2 linked regions of the Homo sapiens genome follow. The protein of the gene in region 1 purifies or fractionates together with the protein of each later gene. This does not show direct contact. Each region holds a gene or a part of one and is shown in the gene's direction. Other genes may lie near its edges.

What was found. Proteins that work in one complex are often made in the same cells at the same time.
Region 2: the proteins of CNOT6 (region 1) and TNKS1BP1 purify together in Homo sapiens (affinity purification with mass spectrometry; 3 studies listed by BioGRID and IntAct, with this or other methods). This does not show direct contact.

The regions. Positions count from the first base shown.
Region 1 is NC_000005.10:180,497,334-180,500,932, forward strand, and holds part of CNOT6 (CCR4-NOT transcription complex subunit 6), read left to right. Parts: intron 1-3,599. UniProt on the Homo sapiens protein: Poly(A) nuclease with 3'-5' RNase activity.
Region 2 is NC_000011.10:57,304,354-57,307,952, reverse strand, and holds part of TNKS1BP1 (182 kDa tankyrase-1-binding protein), read left to right. Parts: intron 1-3,599.

The DNA.
Region 1 (3,599 bases):
AAAAAAAAAGTATGCATTTTGGTGAATGCTTAGACATTCCAGTACCTATATTTGCCTTCTTATATTCTTTAAATGATAAACCTTTTTCATAGTGCAACAGAAAAGGATAATATATGTAAGACATATTGGAATAAATGGTTAAGGCAGCTCACAGCTGTATTCTTTGGGCCGTTAGGGGTGAGGGATCAGTATGTTCAGCACCTTTAGAACCCATTCCCATATGCAAGGTCCACTGGCTTGGGAAGCTCTGCTTGAAAGCATTTATTACTTTGGAAAAGTCCTAATAGGCTCAGCTAAAAATGTATGTTTTACTGGGAAAACCAAAGACTTGGATATGTAGATATCTTTATACCCATTACTCATACAGTCATTTTATAACAAAAGTGTGATTAATAAAACGCTGTGTATGTGAAATTAAGAATTGCTGAGACTGGGCGCGGTGGCTCATGCCTTTAATCCCAGCACTTTGGGAGGCCGAGGCGGGCGGATCACTTGAGGTTAGGAGTTCGAGACCAGCCTGACCAAGATGGAGAAACCCTGTCTCTACTAAAAATACAAAATTAGCCAGGCGCAGTGGCACATGCCTGTAATCCCAGCTACTCGGGAGACTGAGGCAGGAGAATCGCTTGAACCTGGGAGGCAGAGCCTGCAGTGAGCCGAGAGCACGCCATTGCACTCCAGCCTGGGCAAAAAGAGTGAAACTCCATCTCAAAAAAAAAAAAAAAATGCTGAGTAAACTGTAAACATATACTGTATGCATAGCTGGGGTACATTAGAGTATAATGGAATGTACTGTATTTTGGTACTTGAATAAGTAATTAGCGAGGTGGGGGGTTATTTGATCCAAGATGAGGACTCATTTAGGCTGTCTCCACTTCGCTCTTCTCTGTCCTTCACCTCTCCTTCATCCATTTATATTTTCTTGGTAACTTCAGTTACACGTTAAGGTATGTACTGGCCATAGTGTTTTAACACTGAGAATTCAAAGACAAATAATACTCCGATTTTGCCTTCTCATAGTGTATAGGCTTCATAGGTGCACAGAGTGCTGTGGGAGAACACAATAGAGAATGATTAAACTTGTGGAGGGTGTGGGGGCAGTTTACGGAAAATAACACTGAATAGGAATTTGCCAAACTGGGGAGAGGGAGTCATGTCAAACAGAAGGAAGTGTGGGTGCACTGAGGTGTCAAGTGTTAGGGTAAGGCTAGTGATAAGGTGTTACTGGAACAGTGGGAATGACTCGAGATGAGCCTGCAAAGGTGTGTCTGGTCTAGATTTTGAAGGACCAGCCTTGCTAAGCTAAAAGGGAAGTGTATAGCCTTATCTGACAGCAGAAGAGAGAGCCAAAATATTGTTAGCAGAGGAGCAAGGCGATTTGGAGGTCACTTTGGCATCCCTGTGGAGAATAGAGTGGAGGCCCTACAAGTGTATATTTGAGATAGTATGGAGTTAGTGACTTTGAATCTGTTTTCTTCTTTTTTTCTGAGATGAAGGCTCACTTGGAGTGCGGTGGCGCGATCTCGGCCCACTGCAACCTCCGCCTCCTGGGTTCCAGCCATTCTCCTGCTTCAGCCTCCCGAGTAGCTGGGATTACGGGCTCCTGCCACCACGCCGACTAATTTTTTTGTATTTTTAGTAGAGGCAGGGTTTCACCATGTTGGCCAGGCTGGCTTTAAACTCCTGACCTCAAGTGATCTGCCCACCTTGGCCTCCCAAAGTGCTGGGATTACAGGCGTGAGCCACCATGCCTGGCCTGGATCTATTTTTAACTTGGATATGGTGTCTTCTGAGTCTGTGGTCCCTTAAGGGACTTTAGGGCTATGCCCAGTTGCTCTATAATACAGGGTCATTTAAAATCAAAGTGTCAGTATGTTTTGGAAGAAGTTAAAAGCAGTCAAAACAATGAAAGTTATAAAATGTTACTCATGAAAGTTCAGGTGTTGAGAATACTTGTCTTCTGAGTTAGGCTTAGGCAGGCTATAGACCTTAAGCTGGAAAATTCAACCCTATGTCCACTTGAAATCAAAGCCACCAAGCTTAAAAAGTTACCAGTATCCTGATGGTTTGCTAGGATATGGGTTGTAAACATTTTGTGAAATTTTGGGGGGAAGGCAGTTTTCTCTCTAGTAAATTATTGGAATTGGAATAGTGAGACTAGCTTAAGGTCTAAGAAGTTCTCATACAACTGTTAATTTATACAGTCAGTTCTGCTGTAAAGCAACATACAGGTTCCTAAAAATCACTGCTTTGCAGAATCGTGCAGTAGAAATGACTTACAAATGGGGTTGGGGTACAGCACTCTAAAGCTTTATCAGTGACACATTTAAAAAAGGAACCTGGTAAAAATGATAGAACAGTTTTACACGTTGAATGGTTAAGAAATATATAGATACTGTAATAAATGTGGCATTTTCTTTGAAAAAGCCCTGGTTTGCTTGTGGAAAGGGATGTCAGAAAGGTTGCTGCTGGTGAGTTACTGTGAAGTGGTAGAAGAATTACTTATAATCAGATGGAAGGTTGTAACACGAGAAGCAAATAGGTGTGGCTCTTAACCCATAATAAACTGACTTAGCTGGTGGGTGTTTGAAGTGTGTTTCATGTATTTCTACACAGTTCAGTTCGGCTGGGTGCAAGCTTTCTCCCTTCATCTAGTGTTTATGTGACAGAATAGCACATAAATAAACAGGAAATATGGATTGTGCTCAAATTGTTCTCTAATTTGTGTATCAATCACAGTGGAACAAATTCACCTTTTCTTTTCTTTTTTTTTCCCCCCTTTTTCTTTCTTTTGCTTTTCCTTTTCCTTTTCTTTCTTGACAGGGTCTCACTCTGTGTCACCCAGGCTGGAGTGATGATGACTTGCTGCAGCCTTGACCTCCCAGGTTCACCCGAGCCTCCTGAGTACCTGGTATCACAGGTGTGTGCCACCACACCTGGCTGATTTTTCTTATTTTTAGTAGAGATGAGGTCTCTCTACGTTGCCCGGTTTGGTCTCACACTCCTGGGCTCAAGCAGTCCTCCTGCCTCGGCCTCCCAAAGTGCTAGGTTTATAGGTGTGAGCCACTGCACCTGGCCAAATTCACGTTTTCTTTTTCTTTTCTTTTCTTTTTTTTTTTTTTGAGATGGAGTCTCACTCTGTTGCCCAGGCTAGAGTGCAGTGGCGCTATCTAGGCTCACTGCAGGCTCCGCCTCCCGGGTTCACGCCATTCTCCTTCAGCCTCCTGAGTAGCTGGGACTACAGGCACCTGCCATCATGCCTGGCTAATTCAAATGCACGTTTTCAAAACAAGTTTTATAGTTGATTATACTTGTTTAATACTAGTTTTAAATAGTACTATAACTCAGTTTCAAAAATACTTGTTGAACAATCTATGTGTCAGGTAACATGCTACCTTTGTGGGGCTTAGAGTCTTTTGTCCCAAGTAGGTTTATAGTGTTGTGGAGAAGGACAAATGAACCAATAGAGTACTCATCGGGTTATACAGTAATTAAGAAAGCACAAAGCATTTTGGGCATGCTAAGGAAGGAGAAAGTCATTCTGCTTGGAAAACCCAGGGAGTCATCTCAGAGGTCTTTAAGCTGGATTTTAAAGGATG
Region 2 (3,599 bases), on another chromosome or scaffold:
ACAGTGGAACCCACGGGTTCTCAAAGAGGTTAGGTACTTGGTGCTTCTTGCCTGTCCTGTCTTGAAGCCTGGAATAGCAAGTTCAAGAACCTGAAGGGTATGGGGACCTGGCCCCATGACCTTGGCCTCTGTGCAAATTTGCTGAAAGAACTTTCCAAAGGCTTTGCAAGGCAAGCACAGTCTGTTTCATGGATGTTTTAAAACCAGCTGAGATGGTTTTGCAGCTGAGAAACGTGCTAAAAAGGCATTGCATCCGTTTTGTTAACATTTCCATCCATTGAGATTCGCTTTTATTCCCTTTAGTGAGCAGAAAATGTTACCTTTTCCAGCCCCACAGTGGGAGCTTCTCACTGGGTATGTGGGGAAGGCAAGGGAAGTGTGGGGCAGGGGCTTTTATAAGTGGAAGGGGTTGGTGGTGGGAGGAGAGGAGCAGGAAGGGGCTAGAGCATATCATGGTGGTCTTGGGGACTCTGGAGAGGCATTTGGGATGGAGGAGGAGAAGGGAGAGAGGAAGATGGGCCCAGTGAGATGCCCAGGGGGATTTGAGGAAGTGGAGCTTCCTGACGACTCAGGCTGTTGACGGGGTGGTGACGGAGCACAGGGAACCACTGAGGCTGCATTGAGGACTGCAGGGACGAGGGGAGGGCGCAGGACTAGGAGTTGGGAGGCCCTTGTGGTCCTGGGCAGGTTGCTGGGCTCTGAGCCTCAGTTTCTCAGGGTTTGACTCAGGAAGTGCAGAGTTCCAGCTTTAATGTTCTTGGTGCAGGGGAGAGTCCAGGCTTGGCGTGGTTGTTCCTGATTTCTCTTCCTGGGACTCATAGAACTTTGCACACCCCATGCTTAACCACACGTCTTACCTCATTGATCTTCACAGCTGCTCTGTGAAGCAGGAAAGTGATTTTTATCCTCTCCGCTGGAGGGTCGAAAGGTGGTGTGACCCCTTAAGGGCAAAGAGTCAGGAGTACCTCTTTCTCACTTGTATATGTTAACTGCTTTCAGGTGTGGCCACTGTGGGACCACTGCCCCCCTCCCACCCAACCCCCCCCCCCACCACCACAGCTCTCTGCCTTTCCGTTCTGTGTGGGGTGGCTCTTAAGAAGTGGAAAGTGATCATCTTGTTCCCTTAGTTTAGGATGGAGGGAGGTGGGGCGGGGATTGTGATGGGACTAGGTTAGGGGAAGAGGAGGATAGTGTCATCATTGTGTCTTTAAAACACCCAGGCTTTTGTGGTTGTGTTACCGTAATCTGGCCAGTGTTGACTTTAACCCGAGTTCAGGGGTTAGCCGTGATGCCATACAGGTGAGCCTCATTGTATGCAACAGAAAGCGTGGCTCCTAACAGAAAGCACGGCTCCTCAAAAAGCCGAACGAAAACAGTTGCTTTAGAGAGGAGTTCGAGGGGCTTGTTTGAATTTTATGCTTTCGGGCAGCCTTTTCTAAAATGTGTCCTAAAGAATACCAGTCTGTGAATATGTTTGGAAAATGCTGGGTACTCTGTGGCCGTACAGAAGACTTAGTCTGTATATTAGCATATATTAGTACCTTAAAGACAAGTAATGCAGTATTTTCCAAGCTAATTTGGCTAATGTCCAAGAACCTAGTGTTCTGAGCAGGGAAATTCTGATGTAGGGAAATTCTACACTATGGGCACTTTCTCTTTTTTTTTTTGAAACGGAGTCTTGGTCTATCGCCCAGGCTCCCAGCCTGAAGTGCAGTGGTGCGATCTTGGCTCACTGCAACCTCTGCCTTCTGGGTTCAAGCGATTCTCCTGCCTCAGCCTCCTGAGTAGCTGGGAATACAGGCGCACATCACCACGCCCGGCTAATTTTTGTATTTTTAGCAGAGATGGGGTTTCACCATGTTGGCCAGGCTGGTCTTGAACTCCAGACAGACCTCAGGTGATCCACCCACCTCGGCCTCCCAAAGTGCTGGGATTACAGGCATGAGCCACCATGCCTGGCCCACTATGGGCACTTTCTCTTTAAAGAAAATTTTGGAGGTTCCCTTTGTAACGAGAAGTCCTTGAGAATAGCTCAGAGGGGTCTGGCTCTGGGTCCATCTGCCAGGCTTGCGTTCTGATTCTGTCACCACCTCTGTGACCTTGGGCAAGTTTGTTCTCTTCTGCGGGCCTCCGATTCCTCGTCTGTAAGTTGGGAGTAACTTACTCCCAGTACTCATGGGGTTTTGTTAATTGTTCCTCACAAAAACTAGGGAAACTGAGACCCAGAGAGGCAGTGTGACTTGCACCGGTTCCCACGGCTGGTGGCTGTGGGTTCTTCTTGTCTCCCTGGGCCCAAGCCGTGCAGTCTTCTCTGGGCACCCTCCCTGTCTCTCTGGGGTCAAGGTCAGCTGCTATTTCTCTAGACACATCTTTCCAGCTTCACCCCTCCCTCATTTCAGGTCTCAGAACACTGGGATATTCACGTTTTGTAGTTCCAGCGCCATGTTTGCCTCTGGAGCAGTGGTGGAGGGTGGGGTGGGATACCGTCTTGGTCCTCAGGGTACTCTAAAGTTTAGACCAGGTGAAGGGTGTAGATGCGACAAGATGAGGCACATCCTCTCTGGCCAGGGACCCGTGTTGAGGATGATAATGACTATCCTAATAATTTGTTGTATTTGTCAAGTGCTAACTATGTGTTAGGCACATATTTCTGCCAACAAACTAGAACAGTTTATGTACTTTTATTATCCCCATTTTACAGATAAACTGAGGTTCAGAGTGGGACAAATAACTTGTGGTCAAAGCCACAGGCATAGGAGGAGACAGAGCCTAGCTGTGTCCTGGAGTGGCAGGACTCAGTCCCTGTGTTCCTAACTACCCCTCTTTCCTGCTCCCATGCCGGGAGGGGCTCAGCTTATACATGATCTGGGTGCTTAGGGGTAGGAAAGCTGCTTCTAAGATGGGGTGAAGGGCGAGTGGGGTTTAGTCCGGCGGGGTGGACGTAGCTGCACTTTCTTGGGTTTTCCCCACTCGCCACTCTCTGCTCCTCAAGGCCACCTCCAGAGCTCACTGACCTCTGCCTGAGTGGCTTGGGCCACCTCTCGCTTTAGGAGTGGATTTTTTTTTTTTTTTTTTTTTTTGAGACGGAGTTTTGCTCTTGTTGCCTGGGCTGGAGTGCAGTGGCGCGGTCTTGGCTCACTGCAACCTCCACCACCCGGGTTCAAGCGATTCTCCTGCCTCAGTCTCCCCCAAGAAGCTGGGATTACAGGTGCCTGCCACCATGCCTGGCTAATTTTTGTATTTTTAGTAGAAACAGAGTTTCACCATGTTGTCCAGGCTGGTCTGGAACTCCTGACCTCAGGTGATCCGCCTGTTTTGGCCTCCCAAAGTGCTGGGATTACAGGCGTGAGCCAGGGCATTTCACATCTCTTTAGCTCATGGGGCCTGCCCTTAGCCTTCTTTTGCCCCACCCCAGGGAGAGGCTTTGGGCCTGGCCTCTGTAGTCTGGGTGGGGTGCTGTTGCCACCCCCTCCCTCCAAATTCTCCCTGATTTTAAGCTGGCTGTCAGGGTGAGCTGGCTTTGGCCCCCAGCCAGGGCTGCTCCCAATTCTGCTGCCTTGCTGTACTTCTGCTGCCGCCACTGCCTCCTCCCCCAATGT